2 linked regions of the Homo sapiens genome follow. The protein of the gene in region 2 purifies or fractionates together with the protein of the main gene of each other region. This does not show direct contact. Each region holds a gene or a part of one and is shown on either strand. Other genes may lie near its edges.

Region 1 (3,500 bases), on a different chromosome or scaffold from region 2:
AAGTATATATGAGAGATGGTCATTTAAAAAAATTTTTAGTAGGGATCTAGGTTTATTTTATTTTTGGAAATGAATTTTTAATTTCCTGCCATTATATCTGCTTTGTCTTAGGTTTTACTTCATCGACTGGCAAGTTTTCATCGAGTTTGGAGTTTTCCACCAAATGAAAATACAGGAAAGGAGGTGACGTGTCTGGCATGGAGACCAGATGGCAAACGTAATGATAATATTACAAAAAAAATATGTTTTTATTTTCACAAAGAGTATTCTGTAAAGCCCATTTTCAGAAAGGATTTATTGTTCTTAGTATACATAAGAATTATAAATATCACTTTGGGAACTTTTTAAAAAAAATGCCTTAAAATATTTTTATAGAACTCAGATTAATTCTGCTATCTTGTTTCTTGGCAAAGATATCTCTTAAATAAAATCTGGCTTCTTGGCAAAGATAACTCCGAAGTGAAATCTGATGGAATATACAAAATGTTTTGGTTTTGTTCTTTCCACTGTCATCTTGTCCTGTATTATTTGGCCCAAGCACCACTTGCCACTCGCCAGTGAGTTAGTTCAAAGCCATCATGGCCTTTTTCTTTCACAATATATTTTAGCATGAAATGTGTGGCTCATATTCCCTTGGTGCATGTGTGTTTGCCTCACCTGGGGGACTATCACCTTTGACCCCATACCTTCCATTTCTGTGTGTGATCTTTCTTCTGGTACCCTCTTACGTTAAAGCCTGTTATGGCTCTGGTGACTGAACTCTCCTTTTCCATGTAATGTTTTTACAATGACAGTCTGTATTGGAACTGTTGTACACATACAATCAGCACAGTAAAATGCTGTAAACCCTACAGCTTAAAGTTCATTTGTATCATTGGTACTTTAAGAAAAAAGTGAACTGTTTTTGTAAAATATGTGTTGTTCTTTGCTTAATTTTTCTGTAGATAAATATAAAGTATTTAAAAATTTTATTGGTGCTTTAAGAAAAAAAGTGAATTGTTTTTGTAACATATATGCTCCTCATTGCTTTTTCTTTTCCCCCCCAGACAGTGTCTCACTCTTGTCGCCCAGGCTGGAGTGCAGTGCAGTGGTGCAATCTCGGCTCACTGCAACCTTGGGCTCACTGAAACCTTCACCTCCCGGGTTCAAGCAATTCTTCTCCCTCAGCCTCCTGAGTAACTAAGACTACAGGCGTGCACCTTCATCCCTGGCTAATTTTTGTGTTTTTTGGTAGAGAAAAGGTTTCACTGTGTTGGCCAGGCTGGTCTCGAACGCCTGGCCTCAAGTGATTCGCCTACCTTGGCCTACTACAGTGTGGGGATTACAGGCGTGAACCACTGCACATGGCCTTCATTGCTTAATTTTGTCCCTACATAAATATAAAAAAGTACTTAAAAATTCCCTAGGTGGGGCATGGTGGCTCACGCCTGTAATCCCAGCACTTTGGGAGGCTGAGGTAGGTGAATCATGAGGTCAGGAGTTCAAGACCAGCCTGGCCAATATGGTGAAACCCCATCTCTACTAAAAATACAAAAATTAGCCAGGCGTGGTGGTGGGCACCTGTAATCCCAGCTTCTCAGGAGGCTGAGGCAGAGAATTGCTTGAACCCGGGAGGTGGAGTTTGCAGTGAGCCAATATCGCACCACTGCACTCCAGTGTGGGCTACAAGAGTGAGACTCCGTCTCAAAAAAAAAATCCCTGAAAGCAGATAACTTAGAGATGACAGTTGTTTCTGTTTTGGTGAACATCTTTTCCAATATTTCCCGATAAAATACATACATGTAGAGATCTATATATAATTTTATCAAAAGACAGTTATTTGGTGCATACCATTTTGTTGTATAGCTTTTTCTTTTTTTTCCCCCCCCTCACTTTTTCCCATGTCAGTGTGGATAGATTGACCACATTAATGTTAATTGCGTACTAACCCACTATATTTATATATTGTAATTTACTAAACCTGTTGCCCTTTGGTGGATATTTAGATGGTTTTCAGTTTTTGGCTTTGATAAGCAATGCTGTGTAAACATTCTGAACACTGGGAAGAACTTTGCCAGTAGCTCCTTAGATTAACACCCAAAATGGAATTTCTGGAAATGTCTTAAACATTCTATGCTCATTCTGTAGTCATTTTGCTTGGAGTATATGTAGAATATGTGTAAGATTAGAGGACTTTTATAAGTAAAGTTATGAGATCTTGCACTAAATCATTCAAAAACATGGAATCTCAAAGATAAATCACAAAAGTGTGCGTTAAAATGTTTATAAGTAGTTGTATTATTCATTTTTTAAAAGTCTCATGTTTTTGGACAGTAAAATGTGTTTTTTGTTAGATAATGATCATTTCAAGTTTTAAATTGTTTTTAAGTAAGAAGGCTGGGATTGGTTCACATCTGGCAAAGTTGCATGTGATGGTGATATGCAGTGAAACTCACTGCCCTCTTTTTGGAAATTCTTAAATTCTTAAATTGCACGTTAGGAAGAAATAATGACTTGTGTGGAGAAACCATACTAGAAAATTCAGCCACACTCAAAGGAAGATTTATGTGTGTTTAATGGCCTCGTTTCCCACCATCGTTTAGAAACATAAAAGAGGAATAAAAAGCATTCCAAGAACAAAGCAGATGGAATCATTGCTTACCTTTTAGACATGTGATAACATATAATTGTTTATTTGTTGAAGCCTCTTTTGTATTTTCTGCTTGACAACAGGGTTTCAAGTCTGGAAACTTTGATGTGTAAGACGTTAAGTGTGCTACGTGAGAAAGTAGTAGATCTCCTATAAAGTTTGAGCACTTGAAAATAAGCTTAGTTAATGTAACTACAATATATGCAAATATTTCTTTTTTTAGTTTTTAAAATATTGAAGGATGTTTAGGTCAAAAATTGCCATGATGAAGATGCACTTAAAAGAGTAAAACTGGGCAATAAGGGAAATACCCATTTATTTTTCTCAATTGTTACACTAATTTATTCTGATTGTTTTTTCTTGTTTTAGTTTTGGCCTTTGCTCTTGCTGATACCAAGAAAATTGTTTTGTGTGATGTAGAAAAACCTGAGAGCTTACACTCTTTTTCTGTGGAGGCTCCAGTTTCCTGTATGCATTGGATGGAAGTGACAGTAGAAAGCAGGTAATTAGAAAAACTTATGTAGTCATAGGGTATTCATGAGATTTTTATTTTTTGAAATGGAAACTTAGGAGTATCTGAGTATTGGGTGTATGTGCGTTGTATTTAAATTTTGGTTTCAGTTTATCAAGATGAAATTTTTTAATGCTTTCTTAGATTTTTTTTTTCCTTCCGATAAACATCTATAGGCATACCTCAGAGATATTGTGGGCTTGGTTCCAGACCACTGCAATAAAGTGAACATTGCAATAAAAGCAAGTCATTTGAATTTCTTTGTTTCTCAGTGCATGTAAAAGTTATGTTTATATTATGCTATAGTACATTTAAATGTGCAATGACATCATGTCTAAAAAAATTAAGCATGTAACTTAA
Region 2 (3,084 bases):
TGTGAATGGCTCTTAATGTATACATTTTTCTACTAAGAGGTCATCAAGTCTTTACATAGATGAAATCAAATGAGTCCAATGTTTATTTTTCCTATGTTTTGTGTTATTACGTCACCAGTAGCAACAGTCACCATTTTTTTTTTTTTTTGAGACAGAGTTTCGTTCTTGTTGCCCAGGCTGGAGTGCAATGGCACGACCTCGGCTCACTGCAACCACTGCCTCTGGGTTCAAGCGATTCTCCTGCCTCAGCCTCCCAAGTAGCTGGGATTACAGGCATGTGCCACCACGCCCAGCTAATTTTGTAATTTTAGTAGAGACTGGGTTTCTCCATGTTGGTCACGCTGGTCAGGAGCCAGGTGATCTGCCTGCCTCGGCCTCCCAAAGTGCTGGGATTACAGGTGTGGGCCACCACACCCAGATTTTTTTTTTTTTTTTTGAGACAAAGTCTTGTTCTGTCACCCAGGCCGGAGTGCGATGGTGTGATCTCGGCTCACTGCAACCTCTGCCTCCCAGGTTCAAGCGATTCTCCTGTCTCAGCCTCCCAGGTAGCTGGGATTACAGGCGCCTGACACCATGCCCAGCTAATTTTTGTATTTTTAAGTAGAGATGGGGTTTTACCATGTTGGCCAGGCTGGTCCTGAACTCCCGACCTCAAGTGATCCACCAGCCCTGGCCTCCCAAAGTGCTGGCATTACCGCACCTGGCCTCAACAGTCATTTCTAAACATATTAAATTAAAAGTTTAAACATAGCCAGGCGTGATGGCTCAATCTTGTAATCTCAGCACTTTGGGAGATTGAGGCGGGCAGAGCGCTTGAGCTCAGGAGTTTGAGACCAGCCTGGGCAACACGGTGAAACCCCTACTCTACAAAAAATACAAAAAAATCAGCCAGGCTTGGTGGCACAGGCGTGTGGTCCCAGCTACTTGGGAGGCTGTCGTGGGAGGATCACTTAAGCCCAGGAGGGCAAGGCTCCAAGATCTCACCATTGCACTCCAGTGTGGGTGACAGGGTGAGACCTGGTCTCAACAAAAAAAAAAAAAAGAAAAAAGAAAAAAGAAAAAAGGCTTAAACACAAGTGACAAAGGCAGAACACAGGTAAGACTATCACAGTTAGGTTATTTGTAACTCTCCAGCAAGCACTTCAGTCCTGCACAGATACCAACTGACAAAAACAGAAGCCTCTTTGAGGTTCCAGGTAGACATAATCTCAAATAAAAGTTACAAATATGAAAAGACAACAAAATACTTTGGGCTGAAAAAAAGGGCACAGATTATAGTTCCTACAATAAGGTGTGAAAGGAAGTAGATTCCAGAAAACAGGATGGGAGGAAATATTTGCAAACTATGCATCCAACAAAGGACTAATATCCAGAATCTGGAAGGAACTCAAAACAAATCAGCAAGAAAAAAAAAACAAAAACAAATAATCCCATCAAAAAGTGGGCAAATGACGCGAATAGGCATTTCTCAAAAGAAGGTACACAACAATGAGATGCCTCCTTATTCCTGCAAGAATGGCCATAATTGGCCGGGTGCAGTGGGTCACGCCAGCACTTTGGGAGGCCGAGGTGGGCGGATCATGAGGTCAAGAGATCGAGACCATACTGGCCAACATGGTGAAACCCCATCTCTACTAAAAATTCAAAAATTAGCTGGGTGTGGTGGCACACGCCTGTAGTCCCAGCTACGGGGGAGGCTGAGGCAGGAGAATCACTTGAACCCTGGAGGAGGAGGTTGCAGTGAGCCAAGATCACGCCACTGCACTCCAGCCTGCTGACAGAGCGAGACTCCATCTCAAAAACAAAAAAAAAGAATGGCCATAATTTAAAAGTCAAAAAACAACAGATGTTGGTATGGATGTGGTGAGAAGAAAACACTTTTACACTGCTGGTGGGAATGTAAACTAGTACAACCACTACGGAAAACAGTGTGGAGATTCCTTAAAGAACTAAAAGTAGATCCAGCATTTGATCCAGCAATCCCACTACTGAGTATCGACCCAAAAGAAAACAAGTCATTACATAAAAAAGATACATGCACATGCATGTTTATAGCAGCACAATTTGCAACTCCAAGGGTATGGAACCAACCTAAGAGTCCACCAACCAAGGAGTGGATAAAGAAAATGTGGTTTATATACACCATGGAATACTACTCAGCAATAAAAAGGAACAAAATAATGTATTTTGCAGCAACTTGGATGGAGCTGGAGGCCATTATTCTAAGTAAAGTAACTCAGGAAAGGAAAACCAAATATCATATGTTCTCACTTATAAGTTGGAGCTACACTATGGGTATGCAAAGGCATACAGTGTGGTATAATGGACTTTGGAGACTCAGAAGGGAGAGGGTGGAAGGTCGGTGAAGGATTGGGTACAACATACACTACTCGGGTAATGGGTGCACTAAAATCTCAGACTTCACCACTATACAATTCTTCCATGTAACCCAAAACCACTTGTACCCAAAGCTAGTGAAATTTAAAAAATGCTTGAAAAGGAAGAAAAAAGGCTGGGTGTGGTGGCTCACACCTGTAATCTCAGCACTTTGGGAGGCTGAGGCGGACAGATCACTTGAGCTCAGGAGCTTGAGATCAGCCTGGGCAACATGGTGAAAACTCCATCTCTGCAAAACAATTAGCCTGGCATGGTGGCATACACCTGTAGTCCCAGCTACTCAGGGGGCTGAGGTGGGAGGATTGCTTGAGCCTGGGAGGTCAGCCTTCAGTGAGCCATTGAGCCATGATCTTGCACCACTGCACTCCAGCCTGGGTGACAGAGTAAGACCTTGCCTCGAAAAAAAAAAAAAAAGGAGAGAAAATAAAAGAAATATTTTGAGAATGTGAAAATCAAAGAGGCTAGGCACAGTGGCTCATGCAGTGGGAGGGTAGCTTGAATTCAGGAGTTTGAGACCAGCGTGGACAACTTAGTAAGACTGTCTCTATAAGAAAATCGAAATATCAGCCGAGTGTGGTGGCGTGCACTTGTGATCCCAGCTACTTGTGAGGCTGAGGCAGGACGACTGCTTGAGCCCAGGAGGTCAAGGCTGCAGTGAGCTGTGATTATGCCACTACACTCCAGCAT

The links.
Region 1: the proteins of PLEKHA5 (region 2) and ANAPC4 purify together in Homo sapiens (affinity purification with western blotting; one study listed by BioGRID). This does not show direct contact.

Annotation. Positions count from the first base shown.
Region 1 is NC_000004.12:25,380,263-25,383,762, forward strand, and holds part of ANAPC4 (anaphase-promoting complex subunit 4), read left to right. Parts: intron 1-111; coding exon 112-217; intron 218-2,998; coding exon 2,999-3,131; intron 3,132-3,500. UniProt on the Homo sapiens protein: Component of the anaphase promoting complex/cyclosome (APC/C), a cell cycle-regulated E3 ubiquitin ligase that controls progression through mitosis and the G1 phase of the cell cycle.
Region 2 is NC_000012.12:19,370,733-19,373,816, reverse strand, and holds part of PLEKHA5 (pleckstrin homology domain-containing family A member 5), read right to left. Parts: exon of another isoform or gene 134-3,084; intron 1-133.